2 separate regions of the Homo sapiens genome follow, and region 1 is linked to region 2. The links come from fine-mapping of genetic effects on gene expression. A gene starts in region 2. The other region holds a variant in brackets. All regions are shown on one strand. Distances are between the middles of the regions.

Region 1 (9,541 bases), 110 kb after region 2:
CAGCGAGACTCCATCTCAAAAAAAAAAAAAAAAAAAAGGAGAAATACTAATTATTTTTTTTTCTAGGAAGCTCATTGGCACTGTCAAATTTGAAGAAGAGGCGTGCTCTGACTGGTGAGTGACTGCAGTGGGTCAGGCTGGTCTTAGAGCAGTAGCAGGTTATGTCCATAGATATTAGATAGGACTATTAATAGTTTCAGGTTACAGCTGCCAGGCTTACAGAGAATTGCAGTTTGGGGGTAATACAGTGATTTTTCTTCCCCATGGCCTCTTGACTCTGTTTTAGTTGGGTGTGACAAGAATGACCCAATTTGTGCAATCAACTTTCACATTCTGCTTCCCAACTCTATGACCAAGACGTTGAGGACTGTTCATGAGCCAGAAAACAACTCAAGTACAGGGGCTTTTGCTGCTGTCAAATCTTCCATCACGCTAGGAAAACAGCATGCAATCCAACCCACCTAGCCAATTTGCCTTTGCCTTCTTCCATCAGAGGGGTGGCCTTCCAAATAGGATGTTGACCATTCACCTAGGAATGACTGTCTACAAACTAAGTAGCTCTTGGTTGGTCAGTAAAGAGCTGCGTATAGGGCAGTGTCCAAGTGACCACAGAATCCAGCAGCTCCTCACTCAGTTCCAGACTCAGTCTGTGGGGAACAGAGGCTCCCTGCTCATGAGTGTCTCCTCTTTGCCTTCCTCAGGCACCAGGATCCCGTATCAACCATTTCCATTTTGTAATAGAACTCTTCGGGGACTGCCCTCCCCGTTAGAGCTTTTCCAAGATCTCTGAAGACATCATGAGTTTTTCAGGTTTCAAGATTATTTTATGTCCTTCAGTCACAGGGGGAGCTTCAGCTAGTGTTCCATCGTAAGCTAGTAAGTGCCTCTCAAATGGAAACTTTATAGTCTAAAGGCCCAGTTCCCTGGAGGTGCTCACAGCCTTTTGCCATTAGCCCTAGGCAGTGCTCCACACAGGGCACAGAGAATGTGTGTTACCTGCAGTCTGGTTTCTAGTCTACACTGTGTAGTCCACCCTCCAGGGCCAAGGGGCCTGGAGTGCTCTAAAGACTTTCCTGCAGGCCCTCGTGGCTCTGTGTTAATGCTGTCAGTCTTCCTGAAGTCCTGTCCTCTCACCTCCTGCCTAGATCTGCCCCCAGCACACATTCCTGACTCCACACATTTCTCAGTGCCTGCGACCTGGCACACATTTCTGATCCGAACTCAGTGCCTGGGGCCTGGCAGGTGCCCAGGGCACTCCATTGCTCAAATCCAAGCCTGTGGAGAGGATGACATATCATTCCCAGGTTTCTGATGAGCAGAAAAAAAAATCTTTGTTTCTATAGTGCTATCCTCTTTTATCCACCATGTGAGAGGTCAGGAGCCGACTCACCCCAAGGGTCTAGGAGTTGTGCCATTGACCTTACTGCCTAGGGTCACAGGCTGGCACCCTTCAGTACCACACATTGGATCTCTCCACACAGCAGCAGTGTGCTTAACTCAATGGGGAGGTGAGTAGCCCAAGGTCAGATAGTTGGACCTGGATAGACACTTGACTGGGGGACAGGCTTTGGAAGCCACTCCCCTGGGCCTCCTCTGTCCATGGGGCCTCAATACTAGAGCCCACAAGGTCGGCCAGAGAGTGTCTGTGCCTCGACCATGCAAAGGGTGCCAGGTTGTGGCTAGGGATGCCCCCGGGGTTCCTCTCCCTCCTACCTACTCCTCAGCCTCTGCATGTGCCCGTCATGGCCCCTGTGTCCTTCATTCTGTCCACTCATGTGTTCACTGGGCCCCTCCTTGGTGCCAGGCACCCGCTACTGAGGGATACCAAGCCCCTGCCAGAGAAGCTTGGAGCTGGGTCACAGCAGCAAGGAGGCTGGAGACATCAGTGGCATCAGTGCACTGGTCAGTGAGGCCGCTGTGGGAGGAGGGAGTGGGAGCAGAAGCTAAGAGTGGACTGAAGTCCTTAGGCCAGGAGGTAGTTCAGGGTTTAAGAAGAGGAGAGACAGGCGTCCCGGGGAGGGAGCAGGCTCAGGATGGGCCTCCAGTGCCTCCTCTGGAGCTCACTACCCAGACTACAGCAGCGCAGTGGGCAGCGCCTCAGCTCCTTCCCCTTCTGCTGCCTACAGCCTGGACAGGACCCGGAATCAAACCGCAGGCCCTGGGTCACCGCTGCCGGAAAGAGCCAGTTCCTGTCCGTCCATGCACCCACCACCAAAACCCAGGCCTTCCTGGAGGTGCTAGGGGAGGCCATGCCCCTTTTCTGAGTGCTTGGAAGTGACTGCTGCAAGTGACAAGTGACCACGCCTTTTCCCCCGCGGGTATAAATTCAGAGGCGCTGCGCTCCGATTCTGGCAGTGCAGCTGTGGGAACCTCTCCACGCGCACGAACTCAGCCAACGATTTCTGATAGATTTTTGGGAGTTTGACCAGAGATGCAAGGGGTGAAGGAGCGCTTCCTACCGTTAGGGAACTCTGGGGACAGAGCGCCCCGGCCGCCTGATGGCCGAGGCAGGGTGCGACCCAGGACCCAGGACGGCGTCGGGAACCATACCATGGCCCGGATCCCCAAGACCCTAAAGTTCGTCGTCGTCATCGTCGCGGTCCTGCTGCCAGTGAGTCCCGGCCGCGGTCCCTGGCTGGGGAAGAGCGCACCTGGCGCCGGGAGGGGGCAGGGAGACGGGGACACGGCAGGGATGCCTGGCCCTGGTCACCTGCGGCCGGGCATGTCCGGGCAGGACGAACTCGCCGTCGGAGTCAGGGGAAGAACTGGGTCCCCGGGCTGGGCAGGAGGGACCCGGCCGCGAGGGAGCAGAGAGGCGGTCCCCCTGGCTGCCCCGAGCCCGCGAAGGGAGGGAAGTTCCAGAATCGAGAGAGGGAGGGAGTCAAGGTGGAACCCATAGAGTGAGCCTCCTGAAGACACAGAGCGGTTGCCTCTCTCATTAATTAATTAATTAGTTAATAAAATTAACCCCATGTTTACATTCTTAAACGTGTTCCTTGGAGATCGGTTTAACCAACAGCCAGTGAAAAAACTTTTCAGCGCTGTCTTTAGCAACTTTCACCTCCTCTGTCCTGAAAGTGGCAGGAAGCCGGAATGTGGCAGGAAGCGGTTAACCAAGGTGCTGCCTTGGTTAATGTCTTCCACTACCACCCGTGTGTCCCCTCTGTATCCCATAGGCAGGACCGGGGCTGGCCCCTTCCTTCAGCATAAACGGTGTAAAGTTGTTGTGAGTTGGCTTTGGAAACTGAGATTGGTAGTAGTGTGAGTGCAAGGACATATTATGTATAAAATATGCAGACTTCTAGGTCTCTTTCAGATTGATTGAGGTTTTTGCTAACAGCCCTTTTTAAGATTCTTTATGTAATACAAAAAAAAGAAAAAAGAAAAAGAAAAGGCCAAAGCAAGGTTACAGAAACCATGAGAGTTTGCATGTTGTCTTTCTACAAATTAATGCTAAATTCAGAAAAGCAGTAACATTTTCACCTCTCAAAAATTACACAACTGACTTTTAAAATAGTTTATAGTGGGTGGACTTACCTGAGGCAGCTAGAAGAATGGCTGTGTCAGGACAGTGGCCCTGAAGAGAGAATGCATGGATGACCAGTGTAGACAAGGCCAGCAACATCAGTTTCACGGTTTTGGGAATGTGAACTCTATGCGTCCCAAAGGAGGCTTTAATCCCTCCATCAGTCTTGCCTTATTAAATGCATTTAAATGTACAATCACTTTGTTAAATTTTGGAGCTAACACAAATCACATTAGATGTTTTATGGCAGTACATTCAGATTGATCTTCTTTTAAACAAGGGTATTGTATTTTACTGCATGGGTAAGCCACATTTTAATTCACTGTTGCCGCCTAGGGGCAGCTGGTTAGATCCCATCCTGACGGCCTTTGCTAATTCCAACAGCATTGTACTAAATACCCTTGTATGTATCGTGTGTCCACATATCCATGCACACCAGCTTATTGGGCAACTCCTTACAAGTTGAATTCTACTTCTCCTTCTGTGGGATAAATGACTTCAGAAGTTTCTTTAAATGTTCACGAATTTTCCTCCAAAAAACCACTGAACCCAGCTTACAGTCACACCTAGTCCACAAATGTGCCTGTGTCCCTACACCTTTGCTACACTTAGCTTTCATTCTTTACTAGTCTAAGATGTAAAACATAACACATCACATTGCTATGTATTTTTGTTTCCTCATGGTATTAGGAATTTTCAAGGATATAGGAGTTTTTTGGTACTGGGAGTAGACCAGGG[T/G]ATCCAGATGAGACAGCAGGGAAGACTGAATTCTGAGCTGTGCACTTGGAAAACCCTGGTCAGTTGGGGCCAGTCCCTGCCACCCACCATGCCTGTGAATGGAGATAAGGTCTCCATCCTCAGCCTGTCAGGGTGACTTCAGATGAGCCTGGAGCTGAGTTCAGTTCCTGACCCCAGGTCCTGGCTCTGTCAATGCTGGGCTGGTCCAATCTGTGCGCCAGGTCCTTCCACACCATTCCTCTCTCTATCAAAGTAGGAATTGAGAAGTTCCAACGGCTCAGAATCTCGGACTCTCAGGCTGTCAAGGACTCCTGAGATTGAAGGTTGTGAATGGCTGGGCCCTGCCGTGCTCCCCCTCTGGCTCTGTGACTCTGGTGTGGCCCCAGCTCCTGCCTGTAAAGTGAAGAGGAGGTAAAAATCTTCAGCAGCCCTGTGTAAACCTCAGAGGGCTGTGTTACCAGGTGTGGGAGGACAAATCACATCCTCAGGGCTGGTGTCACTCACTCTGGACTGGATCCCCAGGCACCTGTCCTCCATCCAGCAGAGGCTGCCCCTGTTCCTACCTGCACCCTGGTACTTGCTCCCTGAGCTTGGGGCAGAAGCTTCTGAAGACTAGGGTGGAGCACCACGGGGAGGGGCCATGGAGGAACAGAGGAGCCAGACGTCAAGTGAGGACAGCGATGGCACTGCAGGGCCACAGCCTGGTTTACCTGCCATGCTTCCAGTTGTCCTTCTGGTAGGCGCCTGGCCCGGGTTGTAGTTTGAAGAGTGAGCAGGAAATGTCTCCATCCAGGTGGCTGCAGATGGCTACTCACCCAGGCTGTACTGAGAGGCCACAGTCCCAGTTCTGGTCCTCTGTCGTGTATCCAGGAGTGGCAGGGCAGTGAGGCTCTAGCTTCTAGGTCAGGGATGGGGACAGTGGGGACAGTGCCATGCCCCGAGCCTCTGCCGTTGGGCAGCTGGTATCCTGCTTCCAGCCAGAGAATGCACATCTTCATGTAGTGGATTTCCTAACAACCCGGGGAGATGAAGGTAGGTTGTTTTTCCTGTTTTACAAGTGGTAAAATGAGATTCAGGGCTAGAGTTCTCTGAGCAGCTGCTTCTCTGATCTCTGTCCTGCCCTTGGCCTCTGGGAGCTCTTATGGTTCCTCAGCAGAGTTCACAGGGCTCTTGGAGCCTGTCCTTCGGCCTTGAGCTGAGGCCACAACTGCGCGCACTTCATAGGCTTGAGGGGAAAGTGATTCATCCAGGAAGTAAACAGTGAGCCCTTTACTCTGAGAACACCTGTGCCTGGAGTCCGCCGGAGTTTGGGAGGACAAATGAACCCCATGTGAATCCTGTTCCCTGGAGCCCGCAGTGTGGTGGGAGAGGTGACCCAGGGATTATATAACTAATAGGAGGTAGCATGAAGGAGGCCTGAGATCTCACTACCCTTGCCTCCCCCTCCTCCAGAGAGGCTGTGCTGGAGAGAGGCCATGCTGTTGCAGGGCCATAGGATGTGGTACTGTTGGCCTGGAAGATGTGGTTTGATTACAGTCACCATTGAGGGTCAGGGAGGGGAGCGAAGCTCTCCTTTAGATGCCCCCCCACCCGATTTTTTTTTTTTTTTTTTTAGCTGGGCCTGAGAATTTGATTCACCTAAGAGAGGTCCACAGGAGACAAGCACACACATTTATTTAATTCAAGTTTTACCTGGCATGGAAGAACCTGTGAGAGTCAGTTACTTATTTACTGAATTAGACCAAGTAACTCATGAAGAAGCAAGTAACTATGTGAGGAGCTAAAAAGATGAGAGTGGATCCATTCTAACATGGTCTGCACAGTACCCTCTTGGCCTCGACTTCTCATCCTTAAAAATAAGGAAATTGTCAGCTGGGTGCGGTGGCTCACGCCTGTAATCCCAGCACTTCGGGAGGTCAAGGCAGGTGGATCACGAGGTCAGGAGATCGAGACCATCCTGGCTAACACAGTGAAACCCCGTCTCTACTGAAAATACAAAACAATTAGCGGAGTGTGGTGGCGGGTGCCTGTAGTCCCAGCTACTGGAGAGGCTGAGGCAGGAGAATGGTGAGAACCTGGGAAGCAGAGCTTTCAGAAAAAAAAAAAAAGGAGATTGTCCTATGTTTCCCTGGGGACTTTCATCTCCTGCTTTTAGGAAACACAAAAGAGGTCAAAGGATCTTCTTGCACCTGTTGTTTTTCAATAGCCTTTAATTCATAATAGTCAATTGACCAGGGTGGGCAGGGTGCGATGGCTCACACCTGTAGTCCTGCCAAGACAGGCAGATCACTTGAGCCCAGGAGTTCAAGACCAGCCAGGGCAACATAGCAAAACCCGGTCACAACAACAACAACAAAAAACCAAACAAACAGAAAAACAGAAAAACACAGAAAATTATGTCGTGTGAAGGAATCCACACAGAATGCTTACCATCTGATTCCATTTCTCATTAAAATTCGACCAATCTATTCTGACAAAAAGCAGAATTATTGCTGGGGACATAGGAGCAAAGCGGAAGAGAGGATTACATTGAAGAATGAAGAAATTCTGGGGTGTGGTGGACATGTCATTTTCTTATCGTGGTGGTAGTTCCACAATGTATACACACGTCTCAATCTACCAAACTACATGCTTCAAAAATGTACACTTTGTTTCATGCCCATTATACCTCAATGAATCCATTTTTAAAAAACCTTCAATAGAATGTAAACACTTGAGTGTATACTGTATTCCCTATAGCACTTGCACATAGATCATGGAAATAGGTATGCATAAAAAGTCAGTTTATCCAATTAAAATGGAATTCTAAAAGGTAATTAACATTAAAATGTGCAGGGGGAAAAGGAGTAAAAAAATTAGACTAGACAATCATAGCTTAAATGGTAAACTTACAGGTCTATTTCAACTATATCAATTATTGCACTCCCTGTAAATCCACTGAGCACTACAGTTCAATGGTAGAAATGTTTGGAAGGGCTGAGAAAGCAAGACTCAACTATATCTTGTCTATATGAGATGGGCCTTAAAAGGAAGACACAGATGTTGTCTGTTGAAAGTAAATAGATGGAAAAAGATACACCATGCAGAGTGTAAGGCCAAGAAAACTGCCATGGCTATCTCAGTATCAGATGAAGTTGATTTTGTTAGCGGTGGATGAGATCCGAGTTACCCTACGTTGAAGGCGGCGAATCCGTATGCGTCCACAGCACCTTCAGCTCTTCGCCTCCTGAGAAGAAAGAACTGGTTTGAGGGGCATAAGGCAGAAGCAGAGATGGAGGCAAGTTTCAGAGCAGGAGTGAAAGTTTATTAAAAAGCTTTAGAACAGGAAGGAAAGGAAGGAACAGGAAGGAAAGGAAGGAACAGAAAGAAAAGAAGGAAAGTACACTTGGAAGATGGCCAAGCAGGTGACTTGAGAAACAGTACGCAGCCGGACCGCCTGAGTTGGGGTTTTATAGGTTGGCCTACTTCCAGGATCTTGCCTTACTTCTCCCCACTCCTGAAATCTTATTGGGAAGCTGCTGATCAGTTTCAAGTGTTTTCTATGTATTAGGAAACTGCTTTTTTCTGGCATCGGCTGTAACCAGTTATTACTTTAGAGACACAGTTATCAACTACCTGATGGTCGCCCAACACTGCTGGTGTCAGAAGCGGGGACCCCTCTCCTGTCCTGCTCATACCTAACTAGCTGCCTACTGTGACAATTTTAGGACATTGAATATTATGGGAGATGAAAAGGGACCTTTGTAGTTAAAAGGGTTAATTCTTCAAGGAGTATAATAACAACAAATTGTATATGCCTAGTAATACATCTTCAAAACACATGACACAAAAATAGAATTAAAAAGAGATTAACTCAGCTGTTTCTCTGCACTTGCTAGCATGATTAGATGAAAATGCCAGTAAAGTGGCAAGCGATCTGCACACTATCAACCACCTTGATTTAACTGACATTTAAAGAGCAGGAGTGGAACATTCACTGAACACTCATTCCTTTCTATGCTCATGATACTTTCACCAAGATAGACCAGGTTCTGGGCTATAAAACACACAATATGATCTCTAAACTTAATGAAACTAAACTGGAAATCAGTAACAATATCCACAGAGAATTCTAAAATTTTGATATTGAACAACACACTTCTAAAAATCTGTGGTTCAGACAGGAAATCAAAAGGGAAGGTAAGATATTTCAAAGTAAGTAATAATGACAATATAACACATCAAAAGTGGTGCGAAATAGCTAACAGTGCTCAGGGTGAAATATACAGCTTTCAATGTTTGTATTAAAAAACTGGGGGTTAGGGAGATGGGGAGTTACTGCTGAAGGGTATGTAGTTCCTTTCTGGAGTGATAAAAATATTCTAAAATTGATTATAGTGATGATTGCATAGCTATGAGTATATTAAAAACTGCTGAAGTGTGGACTTTAAATGGGTGAATTATATGAATAATCATAATTATTAATTATGTGAATTGTGTCTCACTAAAGCTGTCAAAAAAAGAAAAAACGTGAAAATTATGGGCCGGGCACGGTGGCTCACATCTGTAATTCCAGCACTTTGGGAGGCCGAGGAGGGTGGATCACGAGGTCAGAAAATCGAGACCATCCTGGCTAACACGGTGAAACCCTGTCTCTACTAAAAATACAAAAAATTAGCCAGGCGTGGTGGCGGGCACCTGTAGTCCCAGTTACTTGGGAGGCTGAGGCAGGAGAATAGCATGAACCTGGGAGGTGGAGCTTGCAGTGAGCCGAGATTGTGCCACTGCACTCCGGCCTGGGAGACAGCGAGACTCCATCTCAAAAAAAAAAAAGAAAAAGAAAAAGAAAATTATGGCCTGAGGAGCTACATTAATCAATCATAAAATATAAGTGTAAATTTAAACCAAACAAAGTAACAGGAAGGAGCATAAATCAAAGAATACAAACCACAGAAAGAACTGAGAAAACCAACTGTGTGCGGTGGCTTACGCCTGTAATCCCAGTACTTTGGGAGGCCCAGGCAGGCAGATCACTTGAGCTCAGGAGTTAAACCACTCTGGGCAACATGGCGAAACCCCAGCTCTACAAAATATGTGAAAATTAGATGGGCGTTGTGGCACACACCTGTCTTTGGGGACTGAGGTGGCAGGACCACTTGAGCCTGGGAGGCAGAGGAGGCAAAGGTTGTAGTGAACCGAGATTACACCACTGCACTCTGCGCTCCAACATGGAGGACAGAGGGAGACCCTGTCTCCAAAAAAAAAAAAAAAAAAAAAAAAAAGACAAAATGAAAAGTT
Region 2 (9,160 bases):
CCACGCCCAGCTAATTTTTGTATTTTTAGTAGAGAAGGGGACTCACCTTGTTGGCCAGGCTGGTCTCAAACTCCTGACCTCAGGTGATCCACCTGCCTTGGCCTCCCAAAGTGCTGGGATTACAGGCATGAGCCACCGCGCCAGGTTCAAAATACCTTTTCGAATAGGCATTATCTTTTTTAAAAATTTTTTTTAATAGAGACAGGGTCTTATTATATTGCCCAGGCTGGTCTCCAACTCCTAACCTCAAGCTATTCTCTCAGCTCGGCCTCCCAAAGTGTTGAGATTACAGGCATAAGCCACCACACCCGGCCTGAACAAGCATTATAGTGTTGCTTCCTGGCCTGTGAGCAGGAACCTTGTCTGAGGAAAGAGAAATCTGCATCCTGGCTCTTACGAAAGCTCCCCTGCCGGTCCCAGGGAGTTCTCAGTACAATCAAGGACAGAGAAGAACCCAATGATAGATTGGTGTGATTGGTATTATTAGGGGAGCACAGGGGAAGAACAGGAAAGTTACACTTTGTCAAGTGTAAGAAAGTATTCATGGAAGGCTTGCTGGAGGAAGTGATATCTAGGCTGAGACTTGAAAGATGAGTACACATTTATCTGGTGAAAGGAGTAGAAATAGAGTGTTCGGACTGAAGAACTGCTTGTGCAAAGTCCCAGAAGCTTCCTGTATCCTTGTGGGGACCTGATGGTGTCCCTTAAGGCCTGGACAGGGAGGCTGAGAGACTCTAGGCTTTCCAGATTCAGCTCCTTCACCCTGCTGGGGCTCTGCATCTTGAAATGCCTCTGCTTTTGCTCATGGCTGGTTCTGAACTTTGCCCCAGCTGCAGGGTAGGAACACCACGTGCCCCAGCCTGCACATGGCAGGGGATGGGGGGCGGAGCTCATGTCACAAGGCCCATGGGGTGGGCTCCGCAGAGGCTGTAGTGTTCCAGGAGAGGGGTGCCATGAAAGCGCGGTTAGTAGCCTGCAAAGTGTTGAAGGGTAAAGCTGCCTGTGAAGCAAAGGGAAGGTGCAGGTTGGAGGATGGACTGAGCCAGGCGGTCTGCGTTGGGCTGGCACTGGGAAGGGGCCTTCACAGCCACAGGGAGAGCAACGCTGGTGGGACTGGCCGGGGAGCCTGCTGCGCTTTGCTAAGAGCCAGGATGGAGGTTTCTCTTTCCCCAGAAAAGCCTCCTGTTCACAGGCAGGCATCTGCCCGGCTTCAGGAAAACAGCAGCCGCGTGATGGCCTGGAGGAGGGTGGTGTGGGGAGGCATAGAGGGGGTGCCTTCTGGGGACAGGTTCCAGGGGTTTATGTCACTGGGGAGGTGGGTCACAAGAGGGATTTGGTGAGGGAAGAGATGCTGGGGTTGGGCAGGGGCAGGAGATTGTAGAATGGAACCTGCCTCCATGCTGCCAGGAAGCCCTTGGGCTACAGCCACGCAGCCAGGCACATGGCAGGACATTGCCAGACCCACCAGCAGAAGCAGATTTGGGAAGCCAGCAATGGGGGGAGTCAGTGCTCAGGCTGAACTGCTCCTCGGAATCACACCAGTGTTTCCAAGCTGCAGCAAATGGGCAGAGAGGGCTGGTGTGTGTGTGTGTGTGTGTGTGTGTGTGTGTGTGTGTGTGTGTGTGTGTGTGTGTGTGTGTGTGTGTGTGTCTGTGTGTCTGTGTATGTAACGGAATGGAGGAGGCAGAGAAAGAAAGAGGCCAGGAGCTTTTGTCTCCCACCCAGGCCTGCCTTGAGAAGTCACCTGAATAGAGGAAAATGGACTCCTCAGGGCCTGGGGTGGGAGGGCGCAGTGAAGGGAGTGGGAGGCTTCCTGTGCTGTGAGACGCTGCTGCCTGCCGGGTGCTAACAGCTGGGGACAGGGATGGGCATGAGAAGGCCCAACAGCACCTTGCTTGCTGGTGGGGAAGCCTGGCCTCTGGGAGTGGCCCTGTTTTCCAGGATCTGGCATTGGAGAGATGGGCAAAGATGAAGGGACGTGCCAGATCCTCAGCTGGGGTACCAGGGGCTGGAGGCTGTCTTGAATAGCAGAGTGGGGGTCCCGGGGCAGTCCTGGCCAGGGCTGGCTGGGAAGAGGCCTGGTTTTAGCCACAACTGGGGCACAGGCCGGCGGCTGCAGCTTGCTAGTGGTCTGCCCCTCATACAGCGTGGGGAATGCTGCCATCTGAGCTGTGAGTAGTGAACCGCTGGAGCTCCTCGCAGGCTGGCCTGAGGAGGAGGTCTGCAGAGGTCCCCAGACGGCCTAGGGTGGGACATGGATGGGGCGGCTTGACAGTGACAAGGGGCTGCAGAGGATGGGCTGGGGGGCACTGGTAGGAGAAGGTGGGGACTTGGAGGAACTCTGATGATAAGAGGGAACTGATTGGGGCGCCAACCATGACAGCCCTAGAGGTGAAATGATGGGGAAGGACTTTGATTTGGAGAAAGGCTGAAAGAGGGAACTGCATGCAAAAAGCAGGGCTGGGAATTGAGGGAACCTCCCCAGCAAAGCTCCTGCCTCTGCCTGAAACAGTTCACTGAGTGTGAGCGGGGCGGGGCGGGGGCTGTGGGGGTGCAATTTCATTTGACACCCACATTTTTGTCCAAGACCCTTCCACCCCAATCAACACTACACCTTGGAATTCACACAGTCCAGCCTGGTTGAGGCTTCCAGGCTGAGCTGGCTTTTTCTCCCAAGGCAGAAAGGGCATTGGCTCTAGCTTACAGTCCGAGCAGCCACCCTCTCCTGCTTCATGACTTTGGGTGGACGGGAGTTCTGTCTTCCTACTCCTTGCTCCACAGGGGCTATGGTCCTGCCAGGACAGGTGAAAGGTGATGTCAACTGGCATCTGGCATTCAGCTGGTCTCTGGAGGTGGGTGGAGGGAACAGGGTGTCCGTGGGAGAGACCCTGGCCTGCCGTGGGAATCATGCAGAGATCTCAAGTTATGATTTTCTCTGGCGCAGGGGCTCTTTGGCACACAGAAGATGGGGTAAGTCTCTTCAATGCCAAACATGTGGAGGAAGAACATGTGTGAGCATGGTTTACTTTCTCTCCTAAATATGTATTCAAATAAGTACTTTCTGGTTTATGGAGGGTGAGTTCTAACCAGAAATGAGAAGTAAGTAGCACTGTCAGTCATTGTTAACCTCTTGGCTAGCTCTGAGTAGATTGAGAAAGGGGTGGGAGAAGCATCCTCCAACAACCGAGCACTTCCTGTACATTGACCAGGTAGGTAGGCACGTTGATCACAAACACCTTGAGGGACAGCTTCCAAGTATATGCATTCACAGATGAGAAGCATGCTTCAGACAACACAAAATTCATTTTTAACCCGGCTTTCTTTTGGCAGTAAATTTCTCTTCCTAATCATATTTTGCATAAACTAATATTAGAGTGGATTTGCATTTTCAGAGCACAAGATGGAGGAGTGGTGGAGGCGGTTCAGGTGGGTGGCAGGCTGGTCTGGGCTTTAAAAATTGTCCAGAGGTAACTGAGGAGATGAATCAAACCAGACTGAGCTGACTACTTAACACTAGCAGTCAAGATCATCCTGGCTGGGCATGGTGGCTCACGCCTGTAATCCTAGTACTTTGGGAGGCCAAGGCAGGCAGATCACCCGAGGTCAGGAGTTCGAGACCAGCCTGGCCAAGGTGGTGAAACCCCGTCTCTACCAAAAATACATAAATTAGCTGGGAATAGTGGCGTGCACTTGTAGTCCCAGCTACTCGGGAGGCTGAGGCAGAACTGCTTGAACCCAAGAGGCGGAGGTTGCAGTGAACCAAGATTGCACCACTGCACTCCAGCCTGGGCAACAGAGGGAGACTCAAAAAAAAAAAAAAAAAAAAAAGATTATCCTGATAAAACCAGCCTTGAATATGGAAAGTGTCTTCTAGGGACCCCTCAGGTTATAGATGTTATACCTTAGAATCTCTCTATTTTACAGAGGGGTAAATTGAGGCAGAAAACCCAAAGAAGGCTTAGGGACGATTTTCGAGGCTACTCACTTCATGGTGTTTCTTTCAGAGATTAGCAGCTATTACTGAACTCCAGGAGGCAACAGGAGGGGGATGGGATGGAGGTGGGGACCCGCTGAAGAAGGCCTAGGTGGGAGACAGGTAACGTGGTACAGGTACCCACCCCACAACTCATTAAGGGCCATGGAGGGAGGAAGGCTCTCAAGTGCCACGAAAATTCCCAAAGCAGCAGAGGGCTTGTATGGAAACGCCGGTTATTCGTCCCTACCCGGCCCCCGCCCCCCGCCCCCCCGACTGCCCCTGCCGTCGCCTCCCCGTGGGCAAGTGGTGGGGGCCTGGGCTTACAACCACACGTTCTCCTCCAACTAGCATCCCTTCCAGGGTGCACTAGGATGCCTCTCAGAGGTTCTCCCCCGCCTCCCGAAGGAAAGGGGAAAACCCCGTGGGCGTCCGGAGAGCCTTTGCGCCTCGCCAGGTGGAGGGACCGGCGCCACCCAGACCCGCGAGCCGAGACCCTCCCCGCGGCGTCGCTGCGGGAGGGGCGGAAGAGCGCGGGCGGTGGGCGGGAGCGGTGCTGCGAGGCGGGATCTGCGGGGCGTCCAATCCCCTTCTTCCCCCGCCCGCCCCCTCCCCGCCCCCCGAACGCTTTCCACCAACTGCGCGCGGCAGTGGGCGGGGCCCGTCACGGCTGTCGTCTTGGGTGCGATTTTTTTCTCCTCCTTTTTTTACCCTCCCGTTTTTTTCTTTTCTTTTTTTTTTCCCTATCCTTTTTTTGTGAATGAAAAAAGGAGGTCGCGAGCGGTACCTGGGACTGCAGCGCCAGGCGTCTTCGCGGCAGCGCCTTCGCCGCGGGCCCGGGCGCGTAGCGGCGGCGGCCTCGCCCCTCTCCCGGCGCCCCTGCGCGCCGCCCGCTGCCTCCGCAGCCCGGCTCCGCGCGCCGCCGTGACATTGGGCGCCTGGCGCGCGGGGCGATGCTGATCCGGAAGGGGCAGCGGCTGCAGTGCAGCGCGCGCGTCCGCTCCTGGGCCCACGTCCGGCCTGGGCTGCCCTGCCGGAGTTTCTGAGTGGCCGCGAGCTGGCCGGGAGGCTGGAGCCCAGCAGCAGCGCGGCGGCGCCGGCGTCGTCCCAACTTGCAGGCGCGGAGGGACCCCTGACATTTCACTAAAATGAGCGTGCTCAGCAGGAAGAGATGTGTTCCTCACGCTAGAAGCCACCCCGTCACATGTAGTGGTGTAAGTAGATGGCTGCTTGCGGTTATGGCGGGGTGGCCAGCAGCCCTTGCAGACGCGCCGCTCCGCCCTCCCTGCCCTGCCGCGCCCCTCGCTACGTTCCCCGGGCCCCGCTAGTCCCTGGGCTCTGGCTTCGGCTGCTGGGTACAGCGGGGCTGGAGCCTAATCCTTTCCGGTGTTTCTAGGGAAAGGAAGATGACTTGATTGCTTCGGCCTGTCGTGCCCCTCCCCCTTCTCGATGTTTAAAAATTTTTAAATTTCTATTTTGTGTGTGTGCAGAGTAGCGTGTCAGAAAAAAGGAAAAACGGTCCAGAGTGGTGGGAGTGATTCTGTTAAGAAAACAAACACAAAACAACAGTGGAATTGGGGTGTTTTGCTGGCGGTTCCGGAGCTGGTTCTTTGAACTCAACTCCATTGCAGTCTATGTAACTGAGTTCTGTGAAACTACTGGGGAGATCTTTGGCGGTGTTTGGTGATGTGTCCACATTTTAGGTTTGAGGGGGCTTATCTGTGTTTAGGCTTGCATTTCTTTAATCTGACCATTCAGGGTCCCTTTGGGCCTTGCTTTCTGTTGGATCTGCACGGGGCTTCTTGCAATGCCAGCGACCCCCGTGGGAGCCTCCCCGAATTAGGAGTCCACTCTCTCTTTGTTCTTCTCCTTCCAATTCTCCATTCAATCCATCTCCCTTGATTTTACCTTCATTTTCAGGATTTTCCTCCCATTCCCATTTTGTAAGATGATGTGGGATACTGGTTGCTAGGAGACAAGCCAGGCTCCCAGGGAGATTCTGTTGTTTCCTTGACAACCAGACTAGGGCAGCCACAGATGAACAAGCCTCCTATCAGCTGTGGGAGGGAAAGGGGCCCTTTCTGAGCTCTGCAAAGAGTGTGTGTAGGGGTGTGGGGGTGGGACTGGGAGAGCACGAGGTTTGTAGCTAATTTCAGCACACCTTGGGTTTTGGCTTGCACCAAGTACAAAGAGCTGGGAGAGCGGTGGGCAGGAGGCTGTTTTTGGAGGGGCACAGGGATCATGGGACAGGGATGGAAGGAACACATGCCAGTGACTTTGCGATTGTCATGGAAGAGGAGTGAGTTGGGGGTTGTGATGCCCAGGGCTGGGTGGTGAGGAGGTCATAGTTTATGGAGGTTGATTGAGTGGGGATGAGGCAATTGTGAGGGAGAGTCTGGAGTCAGGGAAGAAGAGAGAGCCGGAGGGAGAGGGGAAGCTGAGAGGCTCACTGAATGGGCTGTATCACCATATATCAGCAATGAGTGGGCTGTATCACCATACATCAGCAATGATACAACATCAGCAACATCCTAGGGCAAAAATTATATTACTCTTGGCACACTCTCTCCAGGACAGGATCCTCCTTTAAGACAGGCCTGATTAGACTAAGAGTTCTAACACTTGAATTGGGCCAGTCTGTATCTTAAAGACAGATATAATTACACATATAGATATGCAATCTAGCATTATATAATACCACATTACATAAGAAGACAAATACCTCCTTTCAGCCCAGCCTCTCTTGGCACAAATTAACCACGGTTCAGGAGACTCTTCCAATGTCTTCATACCCATTTCCCAGAGGGGGAGACTGATGCCCAGAAAATATAAGTGACTTGCCTCTTCCTAGATAGGACAGTGAAGTTTGCCAGTCAGGCAGTTGGGACAGGGTAGAAAGGGTGAGATGATACAAACAGAGAGGCAGCTGAAGGACAAGGGGACTGCTGAAGGGGCTGGGGAATGGATGGAAGGGGTTGCGCAACCCAGAAGGTCTGATGTCTAAACTCATGGCACAGTATTTGTCAATTTCCACTTGTTGATTGGCTGACCACTGCTTAACTCTAGAGGTGACATAGCACAGGTGGGCAGCAGTGTTTTCATCACAAAGTAGCTGAACTTGGCCCAGCACTGCTCTGCTGGTGTTCTGGCATTATTCTCACTGTCAAGGTGCTCCTGAATTTGAGAACTGGCATCCCTCCATTAGGCCTCCTCATTCCCCCGCTTCTGTCTACAGACCTACATGCTGGGAGAATCGGAACTTGAGAAAGAAGTTCTTTTGGCTCTTGGGTTTTAATCTTTATCCTCCAGCTGCACATATTTTGTATTTGGGATTATATCTGTTTTGGTATTCACTCGACAAAACAGAAACCACAGCCCAGATGCTGCCTCCTGGCGCCAGCACATTCCTCAACTTGAGATCAGGAACTGTCAAAGTGGGGTTCCCGGTCCTCAGTTCAGGAGAGAGAATTGGGAGGAGGAAGCCTGTGGTTAGAATAACAGTTCTTAACAGTTCTCTGGGCCAGGTGTGGTGGCTCACGCCTGTAATCCCAGCACTTTGGGAGGCCAAGGCGGGCAGATCACTTGAGGTCAGGAGTTTAAGACCAGCCTGACCAACATGGCGAAACCCCGTATCTACTAAAAATACAAAATTAGCCGGCATAGTGGCACACACCTGTAATCCCAGCTACCTGGGAGGCTGAGGCAGGAGAATCACTTGAACCCAGGAGGCAGAGGCTGCAGTGAGCCGAGATCATGCCACTGCACTCCAGCCTGGGTGTCAAGCGCAAAACTCCGTCTCAAAAAAATACAAAAACAAAAAACGGTTGTCTGCTGAGGGAGGGTTAGGAGAGAGAAGGGGTGGTACAGTTGCCCTGGAGACCATGAGGGCACTGCATGGAGACCTCGTTGAAGGGTCCAGATCCTGTAACATTCCAAAAAGGCGGAGGAGGTTGTCTCATTGAGAAGTCCTTGCTGCACTTTTTGCTTAGGTTGCTGAGATGCATCCACTCGCACGGATCCCAGTTGCTATCGTTACTTGGATATTTCGGTCTGCATCCCTGCATGCTGGCATCCAGTTACAGCCCAGCAGGAATGGAGCCTCCCTGTTGTTGCTGGTGGCCTGGCTCTGGGCTGGATGGCTCAGCAGCCAGGGTGCCTGGGCAGCCTCCAGCACTCAGAGCTCAGCCTTCCTTAGCCTAGGAGGGATGACTCCGGGCTGCTAAAGCCCCCCCAGACGACTTTCATACACACAGGAATGTGAGTGGGGCGGGCAGATGACGCTGGCGAAACCAAGCGTCCTAATCACGCTGGCCCTGCCCCTGCTCCCTAATCCCAGGAGGGTGGATGCCGAGGCCAGGGCCTCCTGGCGACAGATTTTTAAACACGAACATGACATCTGACTACAGAAGTGCCTTCTGTTTGTTCATTCAAGCCATCCCTCTCTGGGGGTGGACAAGCCACTTCCTCTCTGCTCAACATCGAAGGCAACTGAGGCAAGCATTTGCCCAGAAATTCAGGCTCAAATTTCTGATCTTTTGCTTTCTGGCAATCCCATCGCCCATGTAGCCAGTTTAGTGAACATCACCTAGGAGTGCCAGCTGCCTGGGATCTTCAGCCTGAGGATCATCCTCCCTAGGAATGGGAAGGGCAGAAGAGGGTGGAGGTGGATCTCACTCTCTGACGCTGGGGGCAGGGTGCTGGGAGGACAGCCCCCCGTAGGGGAAGTAGAGGCCCATTGGCCACTGACTGTATCATCATAGGCCTGTGGTTCCCCTCACCCGCATCTGAAAGCTGGACCTGTAGCTGAGCATGACACATGGGCAACAGGACAGACCCCGAATAGAGAAAGGGAGGCCCCTGGGCTGGTCAGGTGCATCCAGGAACCTCCCCATCCTAGAGAGGCTGGGAGGAAAAACTCTTGCATCTCCATAAAGGGGACTGGGGTCTGGGGTTGAAGCATGCACTTAGGCAGGCTAGGGCTTGGAAATCCACCACCACCAGAGAGGGCAAGGGAAAGAGTGGAGGCCAGGAGAGCTGCTGCCCAGTTCTGACAAGTCCATTAAATTTTAAAGTGCCCTGCCCTCAGGCATGCTGGGAAGGGGTGGGGACGTGGCCGACTCTGCTTCTCTCAGCTGTTTGTTGTTCTGCTGCCACTGCTCTGCCGGGGAAGGAGGAGGAGAGCAGATG

What was found.
Region 1: its variant is fine-mapped to the expression of RHOBTB2 in esophagus mucosa (GTEx, PIP 0.93).

The regions. Positions count from the first base shown.
Region 1 is chr8:23,100,571-23,110,111 of GRCh38, forward strand. It overlaps TNFRSF10C (TNF receptor superfamily member 10c), which reads left to right and starts at 2,351. Exons shown (of 5, transcript NM_003841.5): 1 at 2,351-2,611. The coding sequence starts at 2,552. It overlaps LOC254896 (a long non-coding RNA gene), which reads left to right. Exons shown (of 4, transcript NR_046173.1): 3 at 67-114; 4 at 2,127-2,988. RefSeq lists an enhancer at 2,416-3,225. The variant T/G (reference allele first, on the strand shown) is at 4,265.
Region 2 is chr8:22,994,919-23,004,078 of GRCh38, forward strand. RHOBTB2 (Rho related BTB domain containing 2) reads left to right here and starts at 4,630. Exons shown (of 10, transcript NM_015178.3): 1 at 4,630-5,187. RHOBTB2-AS1 (RHOBTB2 antisense RNA 1) reads right to left here and starts at 4,887. Exons shown (of 2, transcript XR_007060857.1): 1 at 4,761-4,887. RefSeq lists silencers at 4,310-4,569, 4,790-4,959, 5,290-5,339 and an enhancer at 8,837-9,160.